Linked DNA regions of Homo sapiens. The protein of the gene in region 3 purifies or fractionates together with the protein of the main gene of each other region. This does not show direct contact. Each region holds a gene or a part of one and is shown on either strand. Other genes may lie near its edges.

Region 1 (7,272 bases), on a different chromosome or scaffold from region 3:
GTCCCTGAAAGGCCAAGGCTAAGCTGTGGCTCTGTTGCAGCCCAGCAGGGAAGGCCAAAATAGAATGAGTTATGTGCTCTGAGCTTGTCTGGATTCTGGGAAATGCAGCAGCAGCCACAGTCCGCAGGTGGTCCCCACTCAGGCCAAATCGTGTTCGTAAGCAAAGGCCCTCCCACCTCAGTATGGTGGGCAGTATGGAATCATTGCTTCCTAGAGCTAGAAGGGACCTCATTCATGGTTCTACCACAGCCCTCGCCCCCACCATTTAGGGAGAAAAATGATACAAATAGAGGCAAGGAGAGGGGTAGGAGGCTGCCACACCTCCAGAGCCTCCAGGGAGTGAATGACAGCATAAGTCTTGCCCAGACCCAAGCCTAGTACTGTCTCTCTTCAGCCCAGGTCTGGACCCACCTTCCCTGTCCCTGTGCATTTCCAACAGCCTGAGTTGCTACTTAGCCTTTCCTCAGAGCCCCTTCCTTGTTTCTCTGAGCATATACAGGGTGTGTGTGTGTGTGTGTGTGTGTGTGTGTGTGTGTGCGTGTGTGCGTGTGTGTGTTTGAGCCCCAGTTAGGATGAGGCCACAAGCAGAAACAGAAAAGAGGAGGCTCCTGTCATTGCTTTTCCTACTTGGGAATTTCCCCTGGGGCAGGGGTAGGGGAGGAGCCCATGAGAGTCACAGGCTGGACAGGGCCTGCTGCAGTCAACAGGTCCAGGTCTGAGAGCAGGTACTGCCATTAGTGCCATTAGGAAAGAATGCAGAGGCAGCAGCCACAGAGGGAACGTCTGGGCTGGAGAGGGCAGAACTCCTCAAGTCCAGGCAGACAGAGCCTGCAAAGTGAAACCAAGGGGACTCGCAAAGAAGGAGGGTTCTGTTCCTGCCACAGAAGTGCAGCCTCCCCAGCAACAGGAATCCCTGGAGGAGAAACCCACCCTGGGCTTTCTCAGATCCCCCAGAGAAAGGCCACACCACTTGGAGACTGTTGTCATGGCAGCAGCTGCCCAGTGCTGTGTGTAAATGTGGGTGGAGCCCACTGCCCAGGAGCAGTTTTACATAGTGGTTAAAGGTACAATCTCTCATGCCACACTGCCTATGTTTTGTTTTTTTTGTTTTCTTTTGTTTTCAGATGGAATCTCTTATTGGCCAGGCTGGAGTACAGTGGCACAATCACGGCTCACTGAAGCCTTGAGTTCCCAGGCCTCTAACCTCGGCCTCCCAAGGAACTGGACCACCTGGGACCGCAGGTGTGCACCACCATGCCTGGCTAATTTTTATCGTTTCTAGAGACAGGATCTCACTATGTTACCCAGGCTGGTCTTGAATTCCTGGGCTCAAGCTATTCTCCCATCATGGCCTCCCAAAGTGTTGGGATTACAGGCGTGAGCCACTGCACCTAGCCTTAGGTTTTAAATCCCATCTCAGCTACTTACTATCATCTGTGTTTCCATGGGAACAATTTGTCACCTCCCAGAGCTCAGTTGTCACACTTTTGAAATGGGTTTCAAAACAAACACTCATTAGTAATAATGGACCAAGCAATATACCCTCATAGGACCCTAAATCAAGGGTATCAAATCAAATCCATCAGAAGGACAGCCCCACCCCAACCCCAACCCTACACAAACAAGTAGCAGATCACACTTCTTTGTAACAAATGATTGTCATTTGGTAGCAGAATCACCTTTACCTTATTCCCTCTTGAGAGTCCTTTCTCTTAAGGGAACCCGAGATCAGCTACTGCTGGGCAGACTTAGAGCCCACATGGAGACTCGGTCTTCATTCCTCCTCTCCTGCTTCTATTTCCTCACACCTCCTTATCTGCCCTCCATATTTACTAAGTTCTCATCAAAGTTTAATTTATACCGGTGCAGGAGCTTTCAGGGACTATAGTGTCTTCTATTAGCAGCACTAGAAAGCAAGCAATCTGAGAAGCCACATGAGAGATGAGAGGAAGGGAACTAGCTCGGCAGGGCATACTCCTGGTTTCACATGCAATAAGGAAAAGAAATTTTTTTCACTTGGAGTCAGAACTCTCTGCTGAGATACCTATAGATCTTTCCCGAGTTTGCTGACTTTATCACCCTATTTAGTACTAGTGGCATGCTTTAAATTAATGATTTGCAGCTAATATACAGAATGATAGAATCTGGATTCAAAGATTGAGGGAGTGAATCTAATGAGACAAAATTTAACCCAGAAAAAATTAGAAGCTTCTATACTTGAGTTAAAACTAAAAAGATTTACAGAAGTGGATTAACAGCTTGAAGTATGAAATAAGGGAGGGGTCTAGTTGACTGCAACTTAAACTGGATTCAATTGTGTGATATGGCATTCACAAAATCTACTATAATTTTAGGATGCATCCATAGATGTATAGCACCTATTCTAAAATGAAGGAGGTGGTAAGATCACTCCATTCTGCACTAGGCAGTATATTCAGTGTTTTCAGAGACATTTACACATTCAGGAATGTGTAGAATAATGAATGACTTTGAAAAAATATGTCACATCAGAAATGGCTGAAATAACTGGGGAGGTTAAACCCCCCAAAAAAGTCTTGGTGAGAACATAATTCTTTAAGGATTATGTGAGATGGCATATTGAAAATACTTAGTGCAATGCCTGGCATAAAGTACACAATTAATCTTAATATTAAAAGGATGTTAATTAGTAGTATTGTTAGCACTGTGTCATACTATTATTATTACTATTATTATAGTTAATGCTTATAGAGTGCTTTCTATGTGCTAGGCTCTATTCCAGATCCTTTACATAGGTTGACTCATTGACTCAGTTATTCCTCTTACAATTCTATGAGGTAGGTACTATTATTGTCTCCAATGTTGTAGATGAGGAAGCTGAGTCACAGAAGATTGAGTAGATTGCCTAGTGTGTCTCACAGAATGGAAGGGGAAAGAACCAGAATAGAAGCTGTGGCAATTTTAAGCTGTCAAGGATGAAAGGTACTTTTATTATTTTATACCTGTTCTGTACCACTCCACAGGGCAGAGCCAGGACCAATGTGTGTAAACTACTGGGAGGCAGATTTTAACTCAACAGAAGCAAAAATCAATTAATTAATTAATTTTAAAACTCTGAATGATTAGAACTTTCTGAGATTTCAGTGAGATATCTTATAAGGCAGTGAGTTCTCCATCACAGGATTTAAGAAGAATAAGGATAGAAATGAATGAAATGGGACTTCTCTAGGAAAGAAACTATACAAATGAGAAACCAACCCTTGATGAAAAAATAAGAAGGCATAGTGAAACTTGGTTTTAAAGACACATCTCACAGAGAAATTGGAAAGTAAAACAGTTATAAAAAAGATATGAAGGTAAACTAATATTTGTCTAAATGCTATCTCAACACAAAGTTAATCAGATATCAGAGAAAAGCAACAAACAGTTCTTAAAAGGGGAAATTTCACATGAATTTCTGTTCAGAAACTTACTAAACAGCCTGGCTTTAAAACAAAATCCCAGGATCCTCACAGATCAGATGGTCATCTACCCTGAAAGTGTAAAACACAGAGGGAAGGGAAGTAGTATGCTCTGTAGGGGAAAGAGCATCTGCATAAGAAAGTAGCATCCAGGCTGATGTGAGTAGATGAGAGGCAGGCATAAGGTTAAAGATCATAAAATACTGTTAGATAAAAAAAAATACATATTGCAATGACAATTGAAAATGCTAGCATAATTGTAGTCCTGCTATTCAGTATGTGGTCAACAGAATTATTGCATAGTTTAATATGGAATGCCCTCCCTGCTGCATCTATCTTTTGGGGTCCAGCAGTCCCAGAACTCAAATATTTGTTGATTTAGTGAATTAATATAAACTTCCTCAACCAGAAGCACCAAGAGGTGGCTGGTTAAGGATTGAGAGTCCCAGTAAAATCTATTTATTCTATTATGAATAACTACTGAATAATTTATATATATGTACACATGTATATAAATATATTTTATAATCTATTCAGTGTGTATACATGCATATATATGCGTGTATATATATACACGCATATATATGTGTGTATATATATACACACATAGAGAGAATAATGCCAAGCTCTCCACCAAGGACTATCCCATTTCAGATAATAAGTGTTCTGGACTGTTTGTACTTAGATGGACAAATACGTATTTGATTTATGAAAATCAAAGTATTCATTCTTTTTAGATCTACAAACTTTACAAACTCAACTCTTTCTACAGGTCTCGAACTGAATGATTACCAATTTAGATCTGGGGGCTCAAAAAAACAAAATGTGATGTCAAGAAAAAGTGAAAGATTGTCTCCCATGAAAGTGACAAGAGATGAAACATGCTGAATGAGCCTAAATGGACATGATGGAGATACGGATGTGGATTAAAACTGAGAGTGTTGGGATATAAGGATATAATACTGATTTATGAAGGTGAACAGTCAAACGTCAGTGCAGGATCTGAACTGCAGGGGAAATAAGGGGCCTTGGTGGCTAAGGAAGGGAGGAGGGGAGAAAGAGGTGGTACTAGGGGAAGTAGCACAGAGGAAGAGGCAATACTACCCGAGACTAGATGCGGACCGTCTCTGGCAACCAGGAAAAGGCAAATACAAAGAGAGGTGAGTGACAATGCCTGGTGTGTCTCGGGTCAGAGAACACTAGCAGGCACTAGCAGGTGGCTGCGGCAGGGCCGCAGATCAAAGTGGTAACTGGGGATCTGAGTTCGGCAGTGACGCGCGTCCCTCACGTGACCAGGAGCCTCTATGTGCCCAAGTCCCTCTCGTCCCGGTCTTTTTTTTGCCTGTCCACCATCTCCCTATTACCCTTTGGTCGAGAGGGAAAGCAGAAGAAGTAAGTTCCCTCTACCCTCTTAAATCGGTGTGAGTGTCGGCGCTGCCTAGTAACCCGGGGAATGGGGTTGACAGAATCGGGATGGCGGAGTCCAGGCCTTTCCCTAAGCTCCAGCCCCGCCCCCCGCGCCCACATTTCTGTGCAAAATATGGTGGTCTTTGGGGCGGGGTGGGGAGGCGAGTACCTCCCCCGTCCCCCGGGAGGGGGGTACAGACATTTGGAAATAGTTTCTAAAAATGCTTCGCTTCCACTTCTCATCTGAAAAGAAATGGCAAGCTTTGCGGGGTGGGGAGGTGGGAGCACGGAGGACGAAGCTTGACGCAGGGGCTGAGACGAAAAGAGAACCCGAGAGCTAGGGGAGCGTGCAGGCAGTGGCTGGTGCCCAGAAAGTGGGGGGTGGGGGGTGTCAGTCAGTCCGTCCCTCCTCCCCACTCCCCGCCCCCTACCCTGTCTTGCGTCTGTGTGCAGGTCTGCTGGTCACAGCGGGGCACCTCGAGGAGAGGACGACTAGGAGCACACGGCCCGGAAAGGTCCAGGTCAGGGAAGGGGTACGCAGTGGGCCGGGACTGGGGCGCGAGGGTGGACGCCGAAAGGCATGGAGTCTGCAGGCCGCACTGTCCCGCCCCTGTCACTGCGGGCGAGGCCTGTAGCAAAGCCTGCTGGGAAAATGGTGGGCTTTCGGGAAGGAGGGGGCGACCGGGAAGCGGCGGAGTCGGGAGAGCCGGAGAGCCTCTGGGAAAGCGCAAGGTTGAGGACCTGGCCCCCGAATCAGGAAAAGGCAGGTATTGGAACCCACGGCCTGGGTGTTAGTCCAGCCGCTTAGTATTCTGACTCTATTCTGCCTTTCTTGTCTCCTAAGAATAACTGTGCTTGAAGAAGAAAATTCCCAACATGGACAAACCACGCAAAGAAAATGAAGAAGAGCCGCAGAGCGCGCCCAAGACCGATGAGGAGAGGCCTCCGGTGGAGCACTCTCCCGAAAAGCAGTCCCCCGAGGAGCAGTCTTCGGAGGAGCAGTCCTCGGAGGAGGAGTTCTTTCCTGAGGAGCTCTTGCCTGAGCTCCTGCCTGAGATGCTCCTCTCGGAGGAGCGCCCTCCGCAGGAGGGTCTTTCCAGGAAGGACCTGTTTGAGGGGCGCCCTCCCATGGAGCAGCCTCCTTGTGGAGTAGGAAAACATAAGCTTGAAGAAGGAAGCTTTAAAGAAAGGTTGGCTCGTTCTCGCCCGCAATTTAGAGGGGACATACATGGCAGAAATTTAAGCAATGAGGAGATGATACAGGCAGCAGATGAGCTAGAAGAGATGAAAAGAGTAAGAAACAAACTGATGATAATGCACTGGAAGGCAAAACGGAGCCGTCCTTATCCTATTTAATGTGTTCGGCCTTTAATTCTGTTTTGCCTGCTAATAGTATTGCCATTGCCACCTGGACTTTCTGTTTGCATTTTCTTAATGCCTTTTCCCATATTCTGAATTTTAACTTTTTGTGAGGCTTTATTTTAGATGTTTAGCATGTAACTCGCTTAAAGTTGAGGTTTCCCCCTAAAATCTACAAGTTTCCCTCTTTCAGTCATGAGCCCTACACATTTGCATGAAAGATGTACATTATATATTGTGAAACGAAAAAAGCAATTTTCAAATGGTATATATTGTATCCCATTTTTGTAAAAAAAATGTATATTTATATATTAATATGCAAAGAAAAAGCTAAAAGTATAGACTTCAAAGGCATAACAGTGGTTGTGTGGTAAGATAATAGGTGATTTTTTAAATTTTTGTTTTATCTGAATTTCTCATTTTTTCAGGACAAACGTTTTACTTGTGTTGCAAAAATATATAATGAAAAAATCACACAATTTTGAAGAAAACTGTCAATCAGCTTATAACGACAATGTGGCACTTAATAAATACTTGTCAGAACTTTAAAAAAAGTGAATCCTATGTTTTTTTCTGAATCTCTTAGGCACAAATATTAGCCAGATATGGATTATATTTAATAGTCATTTTGTTCTCATTTAAATAGGAATAATACTTGCTTTACAGTGCTACTGTGGGACCAGATGAGAAAAAGGTTGTGTGAGCTATGTTCGGGGTCTTTATTCCACCTGCACAGGCAGGACCCCAACCCCTATAGATTCCCTGCAGACATAGGGAAGGTACCCAAAGGAGATCTCACTTGTGCTCACAAACAATTCCGGTGAGATTCCAAGTGAGTGCCACATTCTATTCATGTCCTGCTGTACTCTCAGATACCTACCGTATCTGCTAGGCACAGCTGCTCCTTCTCCTGGGTCCTGATCCTTCCACTGGCTCTCATCCCTGCTGACGTGCTGGACTGCTTAAGGTACAAAGCCTCACTGATTGCTCTGGAGTCCCTGGTGGGCCCAAGCTGAATTGTGTCTCCTGCAGATATATGAATGCCCTTCTTCCAGCTTTAATATTG
Region 2 (7,990 bases), on a different chromosome or scaffold from region 3:
GTGCAGGGATTACAGGCATGAGCCACCGCGCTCGGCCTGGTTGTCATAAAATTAATGTTATATTGCCTCCTCTTCCACACCTGGTAATAACTGCAAATGTTTATCATCTTTTATCTCTTTCCAATATTCTATCAAAAGATTACTGGAAGTAAGGCTGGGTGCGGTGGCTCAAGCCTGTAATCCCAGCACTTTGGGAGGCCAAGGTGGGTGGATCACTTGAGGTCAGGAGTTCAAGACCAGTCTGGTCAACATGGTGAAACCCCATCTCTACTAAAAATACAAAAATTAGTGGGACACAGTGGTACATGCCTGTAATCCCAGCTACTTGGGAGGCTGAGGCAGGAGAATCGCTTAAACCTGGGAGGCAGAAGTTGTAGTGAGCCGAGATCGCGCCACTGCACTCCAGCCTGGGCAACAGAGCAAGACTCCATCTTCCAAAAAAAAAAAAAAGAGAGAGACACCCCCCACCCTCCGCCCAAGCAGCTCAACTGTCCTCTTCCCCACCATTTTTTTGGGTGGCTGAGCAACTTATCACCTGAGTTTTAGGCTTATGGATTTGAAGCATGTACTCCTGCATTTGAGTATTAGTTCTCCTGTCCCACCTTCCCAGAAAAACATTATCTTTTATAGAGTATGTTAATCACAGTCCACAAAACCAAATATGTCAAGTTGCCTGCCACCACTGAGGCCACCATTGTTTTTGTAGGCTCCTGTGGTTCTCCACACCATCCCAGCCTCCTCAACCCCCAAATTATTGCTGGACTACAGAAATCTTGAATCTTTGGCAGGGTTGGGAACCCATGGGCCTCTAAAGCAGACTCCCTGGAGGCACCAATATAACCCTTCCCTTTTGGTGTCATAGTTTTCCCCCACTAGGACCCGAATCATCTCTATTTTAGGGGCAAACAATTCTTTCTGCTTCTCTCAAGCATTCGGCCTCTTCCTTCAAATATTTTTTCTTTTTTTTCAGGTTGAGATTCTTTATTCTGGAGGTAGGAAGGGGGTCAGCATGCTCAGGTAGGGAGGGTCCAGCCCAGCTCCTCCAGCCCCCCAGTGCTTGCCCAGCCCCAATAAGTTACCCAGTTAATCAGCTGCCCTCCCTCCTGGGTCCGTCTGTCCTTCTGTTCCACCCTAGACAGGGCCAACCTGGCTCAATACAAGGGCTGCTTGTCCCCAGCCTGTGGGCAGTGCCACATGGCAGGCTGGGGGAGAGATGAAGCAGCAGGACCATGCCCTGGGTCTGGAGGGGCAGAGGGGCCACTTCTGGCTTCAAGCGGTCAGGACTTGGAAAACCACATGCTGGGCAGGCCTGGGGCCCAGTCCCACAAGGTCTGTGCCTGAAAAGAGGTGGTAGTTGGGGTGGGGCCGCCATCACACCTCAATTGCTGGGTCTGAGCCCTGGCCCTGCCGCTGCAGCTGCTCCTTCTGCTTCATCTTGGGCTTCGCTGTCCGTGTATGTCACACCAGTACCCGAGTGCAGTTGGCAGCCCGTGGCTCCAGGTCCTTGGGATCCACAAGGTGGCTTAGAAGACTGCTCTCCAGGTGGCTCCGGGGAGCAGTGGAATCAAACTGGGCATTGGGCTTAGCTAACAGCAAGGGCAGGGCCACAGCAAATCCGGCCATATCCACAGGGAAGGGCCCGTTGGGCTCCCATGCTGTGTGGAAGCCCACTACCCGGCTGTCCTGTACCTGAGGGCCCTTGACTCGCAGGCCACCCACCAGCCCCACAGGCCACACTGAGACACCACGGGTCCAGCGCATCTCCTCAAACAGCTCCCAGCTGTAGGTGTTGCCACTGTCAGCAAAGTACACGACTCCTTGGGTCCCTGGTGGTGATGGGTCCTTCTTCCCACCCACAGCACTCCCTCTGCCCCGGAGCCAGTCCAGGGCCTTGTTCCGCTGCTCGACACCATGGGGATGAACCCAGCCAGGCTTGCCCTCCCGAAGCCGCTGGGCTTTGGGCGTGAGGACCACCAGGTGTGTGAAGAGGAGGCCAGAGGCAGCCAGCAGCCCTGAGACCAGCGGGGTGGGACCCTCAGCATCCTCCACCAGCAGTCAATGCAGCCGGGGCACCAGGCTCAGTGTCTGGGACAGCCGTACCAACTCTGCCTTCTGTACCAGCCTGGCATAGGTGGGGGTAACAACATAGATAGTAGGCAGGGCCTCGGGTTCAGGGGGCTGGGCAGGGGCAGGGGGTGGCCGTCGGAGTTCCGCTTGCAGCTGGGAAATCCTCAGATCCTTCTGCCGTAGCTGCTCAGCTGCTGCCCGCAGGGGAGGAAGGCAGTCACATGGCTGGCCAGCGCGTAGAGGAGGCCGGCGATCGACACCAGGAAGTAGGCGAGAAACACGTTCTTCACCTTCAGCTTCATGGCCACGCCGCTGCCGCCTGCGCCCCAGCAGGCGGGGTCTCTCAAATATTATTTTTCTCCATGGGCTCAGGCTTTTTGGGAAACAACAGCCAGTAAGTCTAGTGTGAGGTTCTTCAGTTTTCTTGCTACATACATAACCGTTTTGAGGTAAGAAAGCACAGAGGGGAAAACAGGTGAAAAACATTAAAGCTCAGAAACATTTTCAGCCATATTAATTCAATTCCAGAAGCAATTAAACTTTGTTTAAAGACAATAATTTAATAGAAATATAGTACATTTACTGCTATGGAAAAATAATTCATAATACGTTGGGTTTTTTTGTTTGTTTTTGAGACAGGGTCTCACTCAGCTGCCCAGGCTGGAGTGCAGTGGTGTGATCATAACTCACTGTGGCCCTGATTTCCTGGGCTCAAGCAATCTTCCTGCCTCAGTCTTCCAAGTAGCTGGGACTACAGGTGTGAGCCACCACTCCGGCTAATTATTTTATTTTTTGTAGAGCTGGGTTCTCACTTTGTGGCCCAGACTGCTCTCAAATTCCCGGGCTCAAGCAGTTCTTCCACTTTGGCCTCCCAAAGTGCTGGAATTACACACATGAGCCACCACGCCTGTCCCACATGTTGTTTTGACAGGAAGTTACAAAGATGTCTATCAGGATGACTCCAATGTTTAATAGAAAATGTACATAAAGTCAAAACGAATATTTACCACCATGAAACAGTAGCTACCACTACAATTCACACTTCATAAGCAACCTTTTAAGGAGCTGAATTGGTGAAGCTATCTGAGATTGACTAAGGCCTAATATTGCCTTACTTTCTGCTTTATATCTTTAATATTTTCTGTAATTTACTGAATAAAAGCCTAGGACCTGGATGTACTGCAATGTGCAGTATATAGAGCTCATAGCTTTTTTTTTTTTCTGGAATGCAGTGGTGCCATTTTGGCTCACTGCAACCTCCGCCTCCCGGGTTCAAGCGATTCTCCTGCCCCAGCCTCCCAACTAGCTGGAATGACAGGTGCCTGCCACCATGCCCGGCTAATTTTTGTATTTTTAGTAGAGACGGGGTTTCACCATGTTGGCCAGGCTGGTCTCGAACTCCTGACCTCAGGTGATCCACCTGCCTTGGCCTCCAGAAAGTGCTGGGATTACAGGCCTGGGCCACTGCACCTGGCCTAGAGCCCATATCTTTATTTAGCACATTAGTAAACAAAATGACTTTATAGTTATTGGAAGTTAAATAATTCAAACTTAAAGCTGTTGGAACTTTATTCCGAGCCTTGGGAGGAATGTGGCTACAGCCTGAGTCAAGCAGCAGGCATCTGCAACGTCTGCCTTTTGTTTCTATAAATAATTAAAATAGGAGGACCAAACCATACCAGAGATACAACCCCCTGAGATCACTACCCCCCCTCATGGAGTAACAAAATACTTTTTCTTGGAATGTAGTAATCTGTAACCTACCAAATAGCTGTAAGTATGCACTGGTCTCTTAGGGGAAATGAAATCCTGTTAAAATTTGTCTCTGGCCACCTAGGCGAAACCCTAACTTCTTCACTTTGGAATGCTAACCCCATTTGGAGCTGGTGTCTCCTGGGTGGCTACCCTCAAGCCTTACGCTGGAATAAACTCTATCCTTAATCATATTTCCAGAACCTCACTATTTAAGGTTGACAGGAGAGGGAAGCGGTGATGTCTTGAGATAAAGCTGAATAAAGTTTCTCAAGAAAAAAAGGGAAAGGAACCTCTAAGCTGTACGTTGTTTTCTAACTCTAGGGAGTTAGAGGTGAAGTAGGAACTTGAAGTTGGAAGTGTTGAGTTGGACAGCCCTCATCTCTAGGCAATACTTTCATAAAGTGGAAAAACGGGGGAAGAGGACGAAGGCTAGGGAGAGACGCAGGGATCTACCCAACCCAGTCCTGAGTTTCCCACTCGCTCTTGGAGTTGAGTACAAAGAGCGCTCCAAAGCCCCTTCTCCTGTGCTCAGCCCAGTGCTCCGGTGGGTCAGGTCTCCGGAATGCGTAAACAAAAGCAAACAGCTGAGCGGCGGAGGGCGCAGGCGACAGATGTGGGTGTTCCCTGAGAATGTGTGGCGACTTCCCGGAGCAGCGGGTCTGTGAGGCAACGATGGAAGACACTGCGCTCCACAGCATAGCAGGAGGCCCCGCCCCGTGTGGCGCCAAGTAAAAGATAATTCCTCAGAAGCCGTCGGCCACCGGCGCTTCGCCTCGTCCCGCGCCAGGCCCAGCCTCTCCCCCAGACCACCGGTGCCATGCGGATTCCCCAGGCGGGACCCCAGCTCACGAGGCCCACTGGCCGAAGCTCCCCACAGGATAGAGAGCCGCTCCTGCGAGGCCAAGCTTCCGAGAGGCGGCCTGCGCCTAGCACGCAGGCGCGGAAAGCTGGGCGCCAGCCTTAAACTGACTCCCGCCACCTGCCTCGGGCCGCGCCGTCCACCGTTTACTTTCGAACGAGCCCAGCAATAGTTCCCATTGGCCGATGCCTTGCAGTTGAATGTTGCCTGCAGACTGCGCCTGCGCTGCGAGGCTCCGCGAGGCCCCGCCCGGTCTGGGCACCTGAAGCCCTTCGGGGCAGAGGAGGGCGGGGACTCGGGGCGGCTCTCAGCATCCGCCTGGAGCTCGTGGCGCTGTGTTTCCGTGCTGTGGAGTTGCCTGGTCCGCTTCCTCCCCGCGGTGAGTCTAAGGACCTTTACGGATGCGGAGAAGGTGGTTCTGAGTCCTTTTTCTTTTCCTGTAGCACAGTCTGGTGTGCCTAGTGTGTTGGGCGGGGAGTCCTGGGGGCGCGACGATGGAGGGAGTGGCTTGGGACCTGCACTCATTCCCTCTTGTCCCATACTGGAGTTTGGGGAGCCACTTTCCCGTCCCTCCACTGTGGAGCTGCGTTCCTGTGAGGGAGGAGGCCCTCTGTGGTGGCGAGGGTGAGCTGAGCGGACGCCGCCGAGTCGGTCAGTCCCGCGGGGTTGGGGACGGGCGGGTGCCGAGGTGGAGGCGCGTTAGGAGGGAGGCCTGGGAGAGTGGAGCTTTGAGAAGGGGAAGGGAAGAGTACTGCCATTTTGAGCCCCTTTGTGGGAGGTGCTCGCAGGACTTAAGTGAGGTAGGTGCAGTTACCCATTTTACAGATGTGAAGCCTCACTTTTGAGAGGTATTTGGTAATACTGACCCAGGTCCCACAGCATTGAAATGGCAGAACAGAGAGATGAGCAAACTATACTAAATCAGTTATAATTTAGAGCTGGCAAGGTATTTTACTCCCATGGATGCTTTTGTCTTGCAGTTAATTTTAAGCACTCTAAAATGACCGTGAATGTTTTTTCTGCCATCACCATTGTTGGGTAATATTGTCGAGAGCTCATAAGCTACTTGACGTTGTGAAAAGAGGTCCTTTGTGACAGTCTGTTTGGTCAGAGTTAGGATTTTCAAGGAACAAGCGATACCTCTACTGCAGCTCCAGCAACTGTGTTGGTGTTTGTGGCTTTTCTGAAAACACGATGAAGCATCGTGAAGATAAATATCAAAGACAGTGAACTAACAACCATTTTTATGACATGAGACAATAAATTGAAAACATTAAAGATAACATTATTTTAATTTTAGAATAAGAATAAAAGATTCTGGAGGAGTTGGAGAAGAGTGTATTCAGCCCCCAAACCACGAGATCAACAAAGTAGGTAATCTGGGAGATTAAATAAATATGAAAAACAATTAAGTTTTTACAGAGTGTATGATTTAAACTACAAAGTGAAATTTAGAAGTCTTTTGAAAAAACATTGTGTTGGCGGTGTATAAAACTCCAACCATTTTATCGAAGGAGCGGAGCATAAAGTGAAAAATAAACAACTCCCTTCTCTGATCTGTACCTTAAAAGTAGTCACTTAACTCTTTTGTACATCCTTCTAGAAATTTTACAAGAATGTGTACATCTCAAAACACATGCAAAGTTGTTATTTTATACATACAGATCTGCAGAACTACACAAAACTGCAAATTAAGTTACCTGGATACTTTTTCACTATGCATTCATGTATTGGTCTTTTTAAATGAGTAAGTAGCTATTTAATCTGGCAAGGTGAAATTTTGATTTTAGGTGATGTTAGTTTTGACATTGCCTTTCACTAAACACGTTGATGAATATTTCCCACCAGATATATTTTTACTTTGAAAAGTACAGCAAAAGCAATTAAAGCCTTAATTTCTCAAGTCAATTCCGGTTAAATTGAATTAATAGTCTTTTTTTGTTTTGTTTCTAGTTTTTATTTTTATTTTTTAGTTTAGGGAAACAGGTTGATATCAAAATGAAAGAAAATAGTACAGATGGACAAAGAGATTTAAAATCAGCTGACCATAGGATTTTTTTAATTTGAAAAAGTTAAGGTGATCTCTCACTATTTTTGTATATTTATATGTGACAGAATTATTTTTAAAAATCTTGTTTCTCAGACTTTCTGCGATAATGTTAAAAAAATCTTATATATGTTTATAAATGGTGCAGTTGTAGTTATTTCTTAAGTAAGTCTTGACTTGCATGAAATGTATTTCTTCTTTATCAGTTAGGTCCACAAAGATGTGAGCCCCAGTTTGGGTGGTGGCACCACTTGAATTTTCCCATACTTAAAGCTGACTCACTAGAAGTCTTGGGACAAGTCATCGAATTCTATAATGTAATAAATATATTTTCCTTTCAGAGGTTGTGAAATGTAATGAACGTTTTACAACTGTTCATGTTTAGAGTTGAAAGGCAGGAAAGCATTAGTGAATTAAAACTTAAAAACTGGTTTACACAGGAGAATGGGTAATGATATTTTCGGTGCTATTTAATCATCTATTATACTGTCTATTACCTAATATGCCAGTTAGACATCAGGGAGGCTCACTAGTGAATTGGCCCTCTGGAGAAAGACTTAATAAAAAGTTTGGAAATTCAGAAATGTATTTGTTTTGACACTTAAACACACTAGACATTAGTGAAATAATTTGTAAGTAGAGTGATTTAGCCTCAGGTTTCTTTCTGAGAAGATTCATTTTTTTATATTAATATTTCTCGGTTTTAAAAGAGAAGCAGGAAATCTTGAACTTGGTTTTTACATGAGCTTAGTACTCACTAGAGGAAAATACATTTTACATGGATTATTTTACTTTTTTGCTTTTTAAAAACATACAGTAGTATAAATTGATTCAAATTCATTTAGCAAAAGGAAGACTGGATAATAGGCAAGACGCTTGAAAATTTTTTAAAGTTTTTTTTTTATTGTGTAAAATATGCTAAACATAAAATTTACCATTTTAATCTTTTTAAGTATGCAGTTTGGTGGTATTAAATACATTCAAATTGTTTTGTAATTATCACCATCAACTATCTCCGTTAACTTTTTCATCTTCCCAAACTGAAACTGTGTACCCATTAAACCAGCAGTCCTCAACCTTTTTGGCACCAGGGACCGGTCTTGTGGAAGGCAATTTTTCTGTGGACGGGTGGGGGTGGGTGGTGCATGGTTTTGGGATAAAACTGTTCTACCGCACATCATCAGGCATTAGTTAGATTCTCACAGTGAGCCACAACCTAGATCCCTCGCGTGCGCAGTTCACAGTAGGGTTCACGCTGTTAT
Region 3 (7,028 bases):
ATGCACCACCACACCTGGCTAATTTTTAAATTTTTTATAGAGACAGGGTCTTACTTTGTTGCCTGGGCTGGTCTCAAATTCCTGGGCTCAAGGGATCATCCCACTTCGGCCTCTCAAAAGCTCTGGAATTATAGATGTGAGCTGCCGTGCCCAGCCCAGGATCTTCCTTTATATGCTTTTCTGTAATTTGCACTTTTACCTTCATCCAGCATATCTTACTGCAACCCTTCCTGTGCAAGGCCCTATAGTGAGCATGTTGCACCAGCTTGCCTTAGGAGAAACTTGAGATACAGAGCCTGCACTGGAAATTTAGCGCAACTCTACATGAGAATGCCTGTCTATTCATATCCTCACTAACCCTGAGTGTTGTTAATTTACTGAAAGCAGTTTTAAATGCTTCCTGACCAGGGAACGAAGAAGCTTAAGTTCTGGGAATGGGAGGATAGAAGTGCCAGAAAAGAGCTCAGGAGTTCAGAAATCCCTGCAGCGGTCCCCCTCCCTCTCCTTTCACTTTCTGTCTTTCTGGTCTTTTGGTCTTTGTTACACTAGTGATAAACCATCAAAGAATGATGGAATGATGCTAACTTCTCTCTTTTTTTAATTTTTTTGAGACAGAGTCTCACTCTGTCACCCAGGTTAGAGTGCAGTGGCATGATCTTGGCTTACTGCAACCTCCTCCTCCCAGGTTCAAGCGATTCTTAGTCACAACCTTCCAAGTAGCTGGGATTACAGGCCCATGCCACCATGCCTGGCTATTTTTTTGTATTTTAGTAGATCGACCTGCCTCGGCCTCTCAAATTTTTGGGATTACAGGTGTCAGCCACTGCACCTGGCCTAATATCTCTATTCTTGGAGATAGATTTAATGAGCTTTTTCTCCCTCTCTATTCACTTATTCCTTGTGCATGTTATCAATATTTTGAAACATAATGTCATGTCCTTTGATCAGTTGAAGGCTGACATTGAAAAGGCTTATGGGGATTGGGTGTTGTGGCTCACGCCTGTAAATCCCAATGCTTTGGGAGGCAGAGTCGGGAGGATCACTTGAACCCAGGAGTTTGAGACCAGCCTGGGCAACAAAGTGAGATCCCATCCCTACAAAAATTTAAAAAACTAGACATGTGCCATTACACTTCAGCCTGGGTGACAGAGTGAGACTCCATCTCAAAAAACTAAACTAAACTAAACAGGCATGGTGGCACACACCTATAGTTCTAGCTACTCAGGAAGCTGAGGTAGGAGGATCACTCATGTCCAGGAGTTGGAGGAGGCAGTGAGCTATGATCATGCCATTGCACTGCACTAGGCCACAGAGTGGGACCCTGTCTCAAAAAAAAAAAAAGAAAGAAAGAAAAGAAAGGGCTCATGTAGTTCAAGCCCTTCTCTTCATGCAAGGGGATGCTAAGGCCCATGATGGTGAAGGGCCTGGCAAAGCTTGCACAGATAGTGTGTGACAGAGCTGGCTCAAACCCATCTTTGGGAGCTGTCTAATCTCTTTTTCTGAGTCTTTATGTTCATAGACAAGTTAGGATGAGTAAAGTAAGTGCTAAATTCCATATTTCGTGTTCTGCATATCTGGGCTCAGATGCTTGTCATTTTCCAGTGATAACTCCATCAATGCCTCCTAGTGGTATAAATTTTAATACTTCTTGTGTGCCCAGCCCCCTCTTAGAAATTTGAGATTTTAGGAAGGGACTAGTAATAAAAGGTAAAATAAATTATTTTCTGGCCAGGCATGGTGGCTCACACCTGTAATGCCAGTACTTCGGGAGGTCGAGGCAGATGGATCACCTGAGGTCAGGAGTTCAAGACCAGCCTGGCCAACAAGGCAAAATCCCATCTCTACTAAAAATGCAAAAATTATCCGGGAGTGGTGGTGGGTGCCTGTAATCCCAGCTACTTGGGAGGCTGAGGCAGGAGAATCACTTGAACTTGGGAGGCGGAGGTTGCAGTGAGCTGAGACTGTGCCACTGCACTCCAGCCTGGGCAACAGAGTAAGACTCTATCTCAAAAAAAAAAAAAAAAAAAAAAAGGCCAGGCGCAGTGGCTTACACCTGTAATCTCTCAGGAGGCTCAGGCAGGAGAATCACTTGAACCCGGGAAATGGAGGTTGCAGTGAGCCGAGATTGCACCACTGCACTCCAGCTCAAAAAATAAATAAATAAATAAATTATTTTCTTTTTTTATTTATTTTTTCAGCATCCACCCAACATGGTGAAAAATTCCTCTTTTCTTAATGTCACTGAACTGTAAACTTAAGATGAAAAATTGTAAATTTCATGCTATATATATTTCACCACAATAAAAAAATTCCTTGTTCTTATTGTAGTGGTCTCCATGTCTTCAGTATTTCCTTCCCCTTCTCCATCTCACCTGTATACATTCACTTTGGTAATTAGCATCTTTCTTAATTTATTGGCAGGATAACGTCATTAGCAGAATCTCAACTTCAGACCCGTCAACAAATTAAGAAACTGGAGGAGTTGCAGCAAAAAGTTTCCTACAAAGGGGACCCCATTGTACAGCACCGGCCGATGCTGGAGGAGAGAATCGTGGAGCTGTTTAGAAACTTAATGAAAAGGTAATTTAGCATCCTTGTCCCTTTCCCTCATCTAAAAAATACCTAAAGACTCACGTGGTAGAGTGAGAGGCGGGCTGACTTCTGGTCATGGCCGTGGCGCGTGAGCCCATCTTCTCTTTCCTCAGTGCCTTTGTGGTGGAGCGGCAGCCCTGCATGCCCATGCATCCTGACCGGCCCCTCGTCATCAAGACCGGCGTCCAGTTCACTACTAAAGTCAGGTAGGCCATGCCACTTCCATTTCCAGTAGAGATTTTACTGAGGGACACTGTTAGGGTGAGGGTAGAGTTGGTGGCCAGGGTCATTCTTTCCAGGTGTGGTGTCACAGGCAGTACACTGTTGCGGGGTTGAAATTTGTTGCCATACTATCTGCTTGCTCTCTGATTCTGATGTCAAAAGCAAAAGAGCAGTCATCTTTTTGAAGGTACCTGGGCATATTCCTATGATTGTAGACCTGGAGTCTCAGGCCACAGCTTCTCCTTCTGCCCAAGGGACAAAATAATGTCATCTATTTTCTGTTCTTTGAGGCTACTCTTCCCTGTGGATTTTAAGGGAAAGAGTAAGGCTTAGTGATGGGGAAGCTGAGAGGCCCCAGGGCAGGTGGGTGGTGGGCCTGTAGGGTGAGGTGTTACTTTCACACTCAAGTCAGAACAGGTGTGCTGGGGTTTTGACCTTCTGCAGCAAAATTTCCCTCCTCAGAAACTTAGTATGGTGTTCGGTTTCAGGATTAATAGAACAAAATGCCAGCTGCACAGCATGTGTTCCTGTAATATTTTTCATTATATGGCTTTGATTATCCTTTTGTGAATCTCTCACAACTTTAAGTTGTTAGTTCTTAGATGTTTTCTCAGTACCTTTGGCTTGAAGGAGTGATACTCATCTTTTGTTTTTGTTTGAGACAGGGTCTCACTCTCACCCAGGCTGGTGTGCAGTGGCATGATCTCAGCTCACTGCAACCTCCATCTCCCAGGTTCAAGTGATTCTTGTGCCTCAGCCTCCTGAGTAACTGGGAATAGAGGTGCGTGCCACCACACCCGGCTAATTTTTTTTTTTTTGAGACAGAGTCTCGCTCTTTCGGCCAGGCCAGAGTGCGTGTTGCAATCTCAACTCACTGCAACCTCCACCTCCCAGGTTCAAGCGATTCTCCTGCCTTAGCCTCCCTGAGTAGCTGGACCGGCACACTCCACCATGCCCGGCTAATTTTTGTATTTTTAGTAGAGACAGGGTTTCTCCATGTTGGCCAGGCTGGTCTCAAAACTCCTGACCTCAGTAATCCACCCACCCCGGCCTCCAAAAGTGCTGGGATTACAGATGTGAGCCACCACGCTCGGCCTTTTTTTTTTTTTTTTTTTTTTTGAGATGGAGTCTTTCTCTATCACCCAGGCTAGAGTGCTGAGGTGTGATCTCGGATCACTGCAGCCTCTGCCTCCTGGGTTCAAGTGATTCTCCTGCCTCAGCCTCCCAAGTAGCTGGGATTACAGGTACCTGCCACCATGCCCGGCTGATTTTTGTATTTTTAGTAGAGACGGGGTTTCACCATCTTGGCCAGGCTGGTCTCGAACTCCTGACCTTGTGATCCACCTGCCTTGGCCTCCCAAAGTGCTGGGATTACAGGTGTGAGTCACCGCACCCAGCCCTATTTTAATTTTTTTAAAGAGAGAGATAGGGGCCAGGCACGGTGGCTCTCGCCTGTAATCCCAGCACTTTGGGAGGCCAAGGTGGGTGGATCACCTGAGGTCGGGAGTTCGAGACCATCCTGACCAACATGGAGAAACTCTGTCTCTACTAAAAATACAAAATTAGCTGAGCGTGGTGGCGCGCGCCTGTAATCCCAGCTACTTGAGAGGCTGAGGCAGGAGAATCACTTGAACCCAGGAGGCGGAGGTTGCGGTGAACGGAGATTGCGCCATTGCACTCCAGCCTGGGTAACGAGAGAAACTGTCTCAAAAAAAAAAAAAGAGAAAGAGAGATAGGATCTCGCTCTGTCATCTAGGCTAGAGTGCAGTGGCATGATCATAGATCACTGTAGCCTTGAACTCCTGGGCACAAGTGATCCTCTTGCCTCAGCCTCCCGAGTAACTGCGACTACAGGTACATGCTACCACACCCCGCTAATTTTTAAATTTTTTATAGATGTGGGCTCTCACTTTGTTGCCCAGACTGTTATGGAACTCCTGGGCTCAAGGGATCCTCCCAGCTTGGCCTCCCACAGTGCTGAGATTATAGATGTGAGCCTGTAATTATAGACAGCTTGGCCTATTTACCTGTTGGAAATGAAGAATTATGAATTTTACATTTCTTCAAGAAAAGGTTATGGGAGAGTTACTGACTTTTTTTCCTTGGATTTTTTCTTTTTAAATAGGTTGCTGGTCAAATTCCCTGAGTTGAATTATCAGCTTAAAATTAAAGTGTGCATTGACAAGTAAGTACTCCTATCTTAGCTCTGTTTTTCAAATGAGGAATAGAAAAATGAGAACTTTGACAGACATCATTTGAACTAGAGACTCTGTCTTTATTCAGAGATCTTCATTTTGTGGACAAAAGTTTTCAAAAGCCTTGGGGTGCATTGTCATTTACGTGTCTGAACAAAGCCACAAAGCTGGGGGTACAGATTTGATTTGTGGTTGCTATTGTGACAACCAGTCCCTCTTTTCCTTGTTTAGTTTTTTACTTGTACATGTCATTCATGCATATTATATATAAGACTGAGATCATGTGTTAATTAACGACTGGGATACGTTCTGCAAAATGTATCATTAGGCAATTTTGTTGTGCAAATGTTGTAGAGTATATAGTCCTTACACAAACCTGGGTGGCAGAACCTACTGCACACCTACGCTATGTGGCAGAGCCTACTGGTCGTAGGCTGTAAACCTGTACAGTATGTTACTGTGCTGAATACCGTAGGCAATTGTAACACATCTCAATGAAGTAGGAATTTTTCAGCTCCATGATAATCTTATGGGACCACCATCATATATGCATTTTGTTGTTGACCGAAACGTCGTTATATATTCTTTCCATACATAGCATGTGGAAAGAATAGATCTCTTTTTTTTAATTGTTCCACACTTTACCATATAATGGAATACGCAAAATTTCACAATACCTTTCAGGATGTAAAATACATATACCCTTTGACGACATTAGAAAAGAGAAAATGTGGGCCGGGCGCGGTGGCTCATGCCTGTAATCCCAGCACTTTGGGAGGCCGAGGCGGGCGGATCACGAGGTCAGGAGATCGAGACCATCCTGGGTAACACGGTGAAACCCCGTCTCTACTAAAAATACAAAAAAACTAGCTGGGCGTGGTGGCGGGCACCTGTAGTCCCAGCTACTCAGGAGGCTGAGGCAGGAGAATGGCATGAACCTGGGAGGTGGAGTTTGCAGTGAGCCAAGATCACACCACTGCACTCCAGCCTGGGCGACAGAGACTCCATCTCAAAAAAAAAAAAAAAGAAAAGAAAAGAGAAAATGTGGCTGGGCGCGGTGGCTCACGCCTGTAATCTCAGCACTTTGGGAGGCTGAGGTGGGCAGATCACCTGAGGTCGAGAGTTCGAAACCAGCCCGACCAACATGGAGAAACCTTGTCTCTACTAAAAATACAAAATTAGCCAGGTGTGTTGGCGCATGCCCGTAATCCCAGCTACACGGGAGGCTGAGGCAGGAGAATCACTTGAACTCAGGAGGTGGAGGTTGTGGTGAGCCGAGATCACACCATTGCACTCCAGCCTGGGCAACAAGAGCGAAACTATCTCAAAAAAAAAAAAAGAAAAAAGAAAAGATAAAATGCATTCTTATTTTTAGTTGATGTAATTATGTGGAAATTTCATGAGGATGCACTGGAAAATAATGAAATAAGGGAGTTGACGAAGGTGGTAGGTTTAATAAGTACATATGCAATATGAAACATAGGTTCCCCTTCCTATGGGGAGGCAACCAACTGTGCCTGCTACGCAGAGGTGTTATGTTGCGCTGATCAACTGTAACTGAATAGTTTAAAGAAATGCCCAGGAGCACAGAGGTTTTTTCATGACAGTAAATAACAGGTGGTCAAAGTAGGCTTTTTGAAGAAACACAGAGCCTATTTTATTAACAACAGTCTGTGTTCTTACAGAGACTCTGGGGACGTTGCAGCTCTCAGAGGGTAAGTTCAGCCTAGAGGCTTCCTTTTGTTCCGTTTAACCTAACTTCATCCTCCGGCTACTTGGTCACCTACATAGTTGATTGTTCCCCTGTGATTCAGATCCCGGAAATTTAACATTCTGGGCACAAACACAAAAGTGATGAACATGGAAGAATCCAACAACGGCAGCCTCTCTGCAGAATTCAAACACTTGGTATGTGGGAGGAGCTCCCCTTCACAAAGGGCCTCTGGCTGCCGGAGAGGGCTAGGGAGAGCCTCACAGGACACCTGCCTTTTTCTTTTCTTACAGACCCTGAGGGAGCAG
Region 4 (7,028 bases), on a different chromosome or scaffold from region 3:
GGAGCCAAATGTGATTATACCATACAGGTGCAGCTAAGGTGAGTTCATCCTCCCTGCCTATCCTGGGTACCCACTGGGGGTAGGAGTGAAGTAGGGGTATGACAGATACCCTTACGAGATGTCCCTGCTCTGCCACTGCCTACTGCAGCCCTGCGACTCTTGTTGGATGCTGAGGGCTTCAGGCATCTATGACTGATTTTCTGGGGTTCCCTGTCTCTCTGCCAGATTCAAGTTAAGAAATTTCTTCCCACTCTTTCTTCCTTTCTCATCTCTTACCAGGTTCTGTCTCTGTGAGACCAGCTGCCCCCAGGAAGATTATTTTCCCCCCAACCTCTTTGTCAAGGTCAATGGGAAACTGTGCCCCCTGCCGGTAAATGCTCTCCCCTTCTTCTGTCAGTAATCCCTTACCGTTTCAGTTCATAAATATTAACTACAAACCTATTCTGAAAGAGACATGCCTAGCACAGTGCGTGGCACATAGTAGGTGCTCAGTTTACTGACTGAATCAATAGAATCTCGAGAGTATTAAGATAGGGCTGAACAAAGGTTTTGTGAGAACTCGGAGGAGGACATTAGTTCAACCCGAGATGTAAGAAAGACTTCTTTTTTGTTTTTTTTTTTTGAGACAGAGTCACTCGCTCTGTCACTCAGGCTGGAGTGCAATGGTGCAATCTCTGCTCACTGCAACCTCTGCCTCCCTAGTTCAAGCAATTCTCTTGCCTCAGCCTCCCAAGTAGCTGGGATTACAGGTGCCCACCACCCTGCCCGGCTAATTTTTGTATTTTTAGTAGAGACGGAGTTTTACCATGTTAGCTAGGCTGGTCTCGAACTCCTGACCTCAGGTGATCCACCCACCTCGGCTTCCTAAAGTGCTGGGATTACAGGCATGAGCCAGTACACCCGGCCAGAAAGACTTGACCCCAGAGCTGAGAGTTAGAAAAGGTGAGGCATCCTTATTCCTCCTCCTCAGGGACTCAGTGAGTTCCTTTTTTCTCAGTCAATAAATAAGCTCTCCTTTCTCCCCAGGAGTGAACCCCACACATAACCCTAGACAGTGCTCCAGTTTTGTGAGCCACTGAATGGGCCTCCATCCCCTTGGTCAGTGAGTGAGCGAGTTGGCCTTCCCTCCAGGGATTGAATAACCCGAGACAAGATATCTTTTGTTCAAAGAGCAGAGCCCCTTCCCAGAGCCACTTCTCCACTGACCAATCCCTCCCTTCTCCAGGGTTACCTTCCCCCAACCAAGAATGGGGCCGAGCCCAAGAGGCCCAGCCGCCCCATCAACATCACACCCCTGGCTCGACTCTCAGCCACTGTTCCCAACACCATTGTGGTCAATTGGTCATCTGAGTTCGGACGGGTGAGCACAGCTAAAGCAGGTGCCTGGAAAAGCCTGCTGAGGGTGAAGGGGAACCATCCAGTGTCCTGGGTTGGGGAAGCATTTTCCTCTTTATGAGTCTGTCTCTGGTCCTCATGGAACAAAAGTGGGCAGTGGTGGTATGAGAAGCAGAGGCTAATTGTCTACCCCCTGCCTCCAAGTAGAATTACTCCTTGTCTGTGTACCTGGTGAGGCAGTTGACTGCAGGAACCCTTCTACAAAAACTCAGAGCAAAGGGTATCCGGAACCCAGACCACTCGCGGGCACTGAGTGAGTAACATCTTTCCTCTCTTCCCCACCTGATCTGGATTCAAGTCTTCCTGGCCCTCCAGCCTTCATAATTAAACCCATACCTCTTTTTTGACAACTTACTCCCCTTCTCACATGAACCCCAACCCTCCCCCTCTACCCCTGACCAGTCTTCCAGTCTTTATAGTTGAAGTTGGACCACTCCCAGGCACCCTTGAATTTCCAATCATGTATCTGCTTTGCACCTCACAGTCCCTAACTCCAGCCCTGCTAGAATATGGGCTCTCCGGACTGGAAAGAATCTTAGGGGTCCTCTAATCTAACCCTCACATGATGCTTCAACTCCTCCAGATCATCTCTAACATAGCCAGAGTGTCACGCTATGTTTAAGCATCTTCAGGGATGGGAAAATCCCCCACACCCAGCCTTCATCATCCATATCCCAGACCACTTCCATGTGACGTCCCACTGGCCCCCAAAGACGCTCCACCCAGCAGCCTCTCAGCCAGAGCCATCTGTTCCTGGCCTTACCAACTCCTGGGCTTCCTCCAGCCTTGCTGACCCCATGGCTCTGGCCTCACTTTTGTTTCAGTCAAGGAGAAATTGACTGCTGACCCTGACAGTGAGGTGGCCACTACAAGTCTCCGGGTGTCACTCATGTGCCCGGTGGGTAAAAGGGGAGAAGGGAACAGGGTGGGAAGGGAGTTGGGTTTAGCCTGTGGACTTTGATGAGGGTTCCTAGGGATACTGGCGTGAAGTTTTCTGGGATGAAATCAGAGTAGGGCCTCTGACAAGAGAACTTGCTTCTCCTCAGCTAGGGAAGATGCGCCTGACTGTCCCTTGTCGTGCCCTCACCTGCGCCCACCTGCAGAGCTTCGATGCTGCCCTTTATCTACAGATGAATGAGAAGAAGCCTACATGGACATGTCCTGTGTGTGACAAGAAGGCTCCCTATGAATCTCTTATCATTGATGGGTAGGGCCATTTTGCTTCCTCTTACCTAGGACATCCACTAGAACCTCTTTTCTTGGTTATTTCTTTTTCTTTTTCTTTTCTTTTTTTTTTTTTTGAGATGGAATCTTACTCTGTTCCCCAGGCTGGAGTGCAGTGGCACAATCTTGGCTCACTGCAACCTCCACCTCCCGGGTTCAGGCGATACTCCTGCCTCAGCCTCCTGAGTAGCTGGGATTACAGGCACCCACCACCATGCCTGGCTAATTTTTGTATTTTTAGTAAAGACTGGGTTTCACCATGTTGGCCAGGCTGGTCTTGAACTCCTGACCTCAGGTGATCTGCCCACTTCAGCCTCCTAAAGTGCTGGGATTACAGGCATGAGACAACATGCCCAGCCTATAATATTTCTTTTTTCTTTTAGCCACCACCTCCTTCAGGGTTTTTAATTCATATGGCTTACTTCCCCTCACATGAACTGCAATTCTCACCTTATCTATCCCTTTTACCAGTCTGTGTGTGTGTGTGTGTATGTGCATGTGTGTGGAGGGGGAGGGCAACATTAAGGACTTAGTATATACAAGGCATCTTGCTGAGCACTTTGCATGAGTTATCTCATTGAATCCTCACAATAACCCTATGGACTCGGCTCCTACCTGTAATTCCAACACTGGAAGGCTGAGATGGGAAGATCATTTGAGGCTAGGAGTTTGAGACCAGCCTGGGCAACATAGTAGACCCTCTCTCTATAAAAAATTAAAAAAATTAGCCAGGCATGTTATAATAGCTCATGACTGTAGTCTTAGCTGCTCAGGAGGCTGAGGCAGGAGGATGGCTTGAACCCAGGAGTTTGAGGCTGCAGTGAGCTATGATTGCATTACTGCACCCCAGCCTGGGCAACAGATTGAGACCCTGTCTCAAAAAAAGAAATAATCCTATGATTGGCTAGTGACACTCACCCAGAAAAAAAAAAAGAAAAAAAAAAACCCTATGAGATAGGTAGTATCATTACACATGAGGAAACTGAGGCCGAGAGAGATTGAGCCTTGCTCAAGGTTATATTGTTAAGTGGCAGAGCCAGTGTACTGAACTGTCATAATATATCACCTATAACAACTACCTGACTTCCCACTGAGCATTGCAATAAGGTTCTTTTCAGGGCCTGGATGTTCTAATCTTTTGATCTTGCTAGTCTTAACCTCTTTTTGGAATCTACATTATGGTTCCTGTTCCCAGTGCTCCCCCACTTTTTGTTTGTTTGTTTGTTTTTGAGACAGGGTCTCGTTCTGTTGCCCAGACTGGAGTATAGTAGCACAATCATAGCTCACTGCAGCCTCGACCTCCTGGCCTCAAGTGATCCTCCCACCTTGGCCTCCCAAAGTGCTAGGATTGCAGGCATGAGCTACCATGCCTGGCCCCTAGTGCCTTTATTTATTTATTTTTACACAAGTGTTTAGAAAGCCAAAGACCCAGTGCCTTTTGGAGATGGTTTATGGACTTCTGTGTCTCTGCTCCTTTTGTTCCTTATACTACACGTAAGTGCTCAGATTTTTTTTTTTTTTTTTTTTGAGACGGTGTTTCACTCTGTCACCCAGGCTGGAGTGGTATGGCACAGTCTCGTGATCTCAGCTCATGCAACCTCTGCCTCCTGGGTTCAAGCAATTCTCCTGCCTCAGCCTCCTGAGTAGCTGGGATTACAGGCATGTGCCGCCACATCCGGCTAATTTTGTATTTTTGGTAGAGATGGGGTTTCACCATGTTGGCCAGGCTGGTCTCGAACTCCTGACCTCAGGTGATCCACCCACCTCAGTCTCTGAAAGTGTGATTATAGGCGTGAGCCACCACGCCGGCTTTTTTTTTTTTTTTTTTTTTGAGGCAGAGCCTTGCTCTGTTTCCCAGGGTGGAGAACAGTGGTGTGGTCTAGGCTCACTGCAACCTCTGCCTCCTGGGTTCAAGCGATTCTCGTGCCTCAGCCTCCTAAGTAGCTGGGATTATAGGCATGTGCCACCACACCTGGCTAATTTTTGTATTTTTAGTAGAGATGAGGTTTCACCATGTTGGCCAGGCTGGTCTTGAACTCCCAGCCTCAAGTGATTCACCTGCCTGTACCTCCCAAAGTGCTGGGATTAAAGGCGTGAGCCACTGCACCCAGCCTCAGATTGTATTTATTTTAAAACCTATTACTTACTTTGCAAAGCTCTTTTACATACCTTGTGTTATTTGATTCCAACAACTCAGAGCGGTCCAGTAGGATGGATAATGTTCTTATTTTACAGATGAGGAAACTGAGATACAGGAAGGTGAGTTACAGAACTCTGGCTACTGTTCTGCTCATCTCCCAGCCCCGTGAATTTTCATCTCTCTCTTCCCCCAGTTTATTTATGGAGATTCTTAGTTCCTGTTCAGATTGTGATGAGATCCAATTCATGGAAGATGGATCCTGGTGCCCAATGAAACCCAAGAAGGAGGCATCTGAGGTTTGCCCCCCGCCAGGGTATGGGCTGGATGGTGAGTGACCCCCTGTTCCCCAGCTAAGCTAAATCTTGGATGGCCTCTTCTCTGAGACGTAGTCTTCTTAATACCCACAGGCCTCCAGTACAGCCCAGTCCAGGGGGGAGATCCATCAGAGAATAAGAAGAAGGTCGAAGTTATTGACTTGACAATAGAAAGCTCATCAGATGAGGAGGATCTGCCCCCTACCAAGAAGCACTGTTCTGTCACCTCAGCTGCCATCCCGGCCCTACCTGGAAGCAAAGGGTATGAGAAAATAGGCTGAGTCTACAGCAAAACGGACAGGGGAAGAAGTCAGGATTGCTTTCTGATCATTGGACAAAGCCTGGGGCAAGAGAAATGTGGAGGGGACAGAGAGGGAACCTGGGGACCTGAGCTGGGTGAGGGCATCTGTGGTTTGCTGGCTGCCTCAGCTCCTCTCTACCCACAGAGTCCTGACATCTGGCCACCAGCCATCCTCGGTGCTAAGGAGCCCTGCTATGGGCACGTTGGGTGGGGATTTCCTGTCCAGTCTCCCACTACATGAGTACCCACCTGCCTTCCCACTGGGAGCCGACATCCAAGGTATGACATGGGTCATAAGATGGACCCTGCACTGCCACACCCTCCCCAGAGCTACATCAGAACCCCTGTTCCTTCTCAAAGCCTCCTGCTTCTCCTGCAAGGGGCCACAGTCCACAGTGCTTTGTCTTTTGGTGGTAAAGGGGTCAGATAGGAGGTTAATTTTGATTTTTCTTTTCCTGCCAGGTTTAGATTTATTTTCATTTCTTCAGACAGAGAGTCAGGTAAGTGGTTCTTTCTTCAGAAGGTCTCAGATCTCTGAAGCTTCCTTTCTAGACACTGATGGGGCCCCTCCCTCTCTTATGATCTCTGGGGATGTAAATCTGCTTTCCCGTGAGGGCAGTGGGGTGTAGGTATCTTATTATCTCCTCAGCCCCACTGGTAGTTCCTGAGATTCCTACTTAGGCCTCCTTCCTAGATCCCCTGTTACTTTTCTGCCCTGGCCTACTCACCCCTACCCCCGTGTGCACTTAGAGCACCATGCCTGCTCTAACCGGACATTCCACACATTTCAGACGCCCACAAAGCCAAGAACCTAACAAGTTGGAGGAGCTCTCTCAAGGCAGGGAAAGGGGAAGGGTGTAGGGAAGTAGGGGAAAGAGGGAGAGGCTCTCCTGCTTCTCAAGAGAATACCTTCGGATCCACAGGGGTTGATTGCTCTCATACGGCATTTCTGAGATGAGTGACTGGGAGGTGGGGAAGTCGGGATTGAGATCTTAAACTATGCCCTTGATTCTTCCTAGCACTATGGCCCCTCTGTCATCACCTCACTAGATGAACAGGATGCCCTTGGCCACTTCTTCCAGTACCGAGGGACCCCTTCTCACTTTCTGGGCCCACTGGCCCCCACGCTGGGGAGCTCCCACTGCAGCGCCACTCCGGCGCCCCCTCCTGGCCGTGTCAGCAGCATTGTGGCCCCTGGGGGGGCCTTGAGGGAGGGGCATGGAGGACCCCTGCCCTCAGGTCCCTCTTTGACTGGCTGTCGGTCAGACATCATTTCCCTGGACTGAGTTCCCTGGATTATGGAAACTTCGCTGTCCCCCAACACTGAGCAAGTATGCTGTGGAGTCCCAACCCCAGCTACTCTGATCCCTCTGGGGGCTCTGGCCAAGGGCCAGACAGACCTTCACAGATGCCTACTTTTGGCCTCATCTCTGCCTGACAAGGCCAGCACCCAAAGGGTTAATATTTAACCTCTTTTTAAGGACACTGGGGTCTGTTTCTGGAAATGTTCTTTAGATGGTGGCACATTCCTTTGGGTATGTTAACCTAGGCAGTGGGAGGCAAATGGGATGGTATGTGAGCTAGGAGAAGGGCTGAACCCTCAGCCTTGACTATGTCTAGAGCCTCTTGGGGAAGGGGCACCTCTCTTGAACCC

The links.
Region 1: the proteins of STAT3 (region 3) and TCEAL1 purify together in Homo sapiens (affinity purification with mass spectrometry; 3 studies listed by BioGRID and IntAct, with this or other methods). This does not show direct contact.
Region 2: the proteins of STAT3 (region 3) and TRIM59 purify together in Homo sapiens (affinity purification with western blotting; 4 studies listed by BioGRID). This does not show direct contact.
Region 4: the proteins of STAT3 (region 3) and PIAS3 purify together in Homo sapiens (affinity purification with western blotting; 5 studies listed by BioGRID). This does not show direct contact.

What each region holds. Positions count from the first base shown.
Region 1 is NC_000023.11:103,624,194-103,631,465, forward strand, and holds TCEAL1 (transcription elongation factor A protein-like 1), read left to right. Parts: upstream 1-4,781; 5' UTR 4,782-4,832; intron 4,833-5,300; 5' UTR 5,301-5,380; intron 5,381-5,691; 5' UTR 5,692-5,723; coding exon 5,724-6,203; 3' UTR 6,204-6,760; downstream 6,761-7,272.
Region 2 is NC_000003.12:160,446,787-160,454,776, reverse strand, and holds the start of TRIM59 (tripartite motif-containing protein 59), read left to right. Parts: upstream 1-4,990; 5' UTR 4,991-5,060; intron 5,061-5,981; 5' UTR 5,982-6,051; intron 6,052-7,990. UniProt on the Homo sapiens protein: E3 ubiquitin ligase involved in different processes such as development and immune response. Serves as a negative regulator for innate immune signaling pathways by suppressing RLR-induced activation of IRF3/7 and NF-kappa-B via interaction with adapter ECSIT.
Region 3 is NC_000017.11:42,329,443-42,336,470, reverse strand, and holds part of STAT3 (signal transducer and activator of transcription 3), read left to right. Parts: intron 1-2,421; coding exon 2,422-2,580; intron 2,581-2,705; coding exon 2,706-2,798; intron 2,799-4,939; coding exon 4,940-4,999; intron 5,000-6,679; coding exon of another isoform or gene 6,680-6,694; coding exon 6,695-6,724; intron 6,725-6,823; coding exon 6,824-6,917; intron 6,918-7,013; coding exon 7,014-7,028. UniProt on the Homo sapiens protein: Signal transducer and transcription activator that mediates cellular responses to interleukins, KITLG/SCF, LEP and other growth factors. Once activated, recruits coactivators, such as NCOA1 or MED1, to the promoter region of the target gene.
Region 4 is NC_000001.11:145,849,078-145,856,105, reverse strand, and holds part of PIAS3 (E3 SUMO-protein ligase PIAS3), read left to right. Parts: coding exon 1-38; intron 39-279; coding exon 280-370; intron 371-1,225; coding exon 1,226-1,360; intron 1,361-1,542; coding exon 1,543-1,648; intron 1,649-2,219; coding exon 2,220-2,293; intron 2,294-2,441; coding exon 2,442-2,602; intron 2,603-4,952; coding exon 4,953-5,086; intron 5,087-5,166; coding exon 5,167-5,335; intron 5,336-5,460; exon of another isoform or gene 5,461-5,519; coding exon 5,520-5,653; intron 5,654-5,836; coding exon 5,837-5,874; intron 5,875-6,393; coding exon 6,394-6,660; 3' UTR 6,661-7,028. UniProt on the Homo sapiens protein: Functions as an E3-type small ubiquitin-like modifier (SUMO) ligase, stabilizing the interaction between UBE2I and the substrate, and as a SUMO-tethering factor.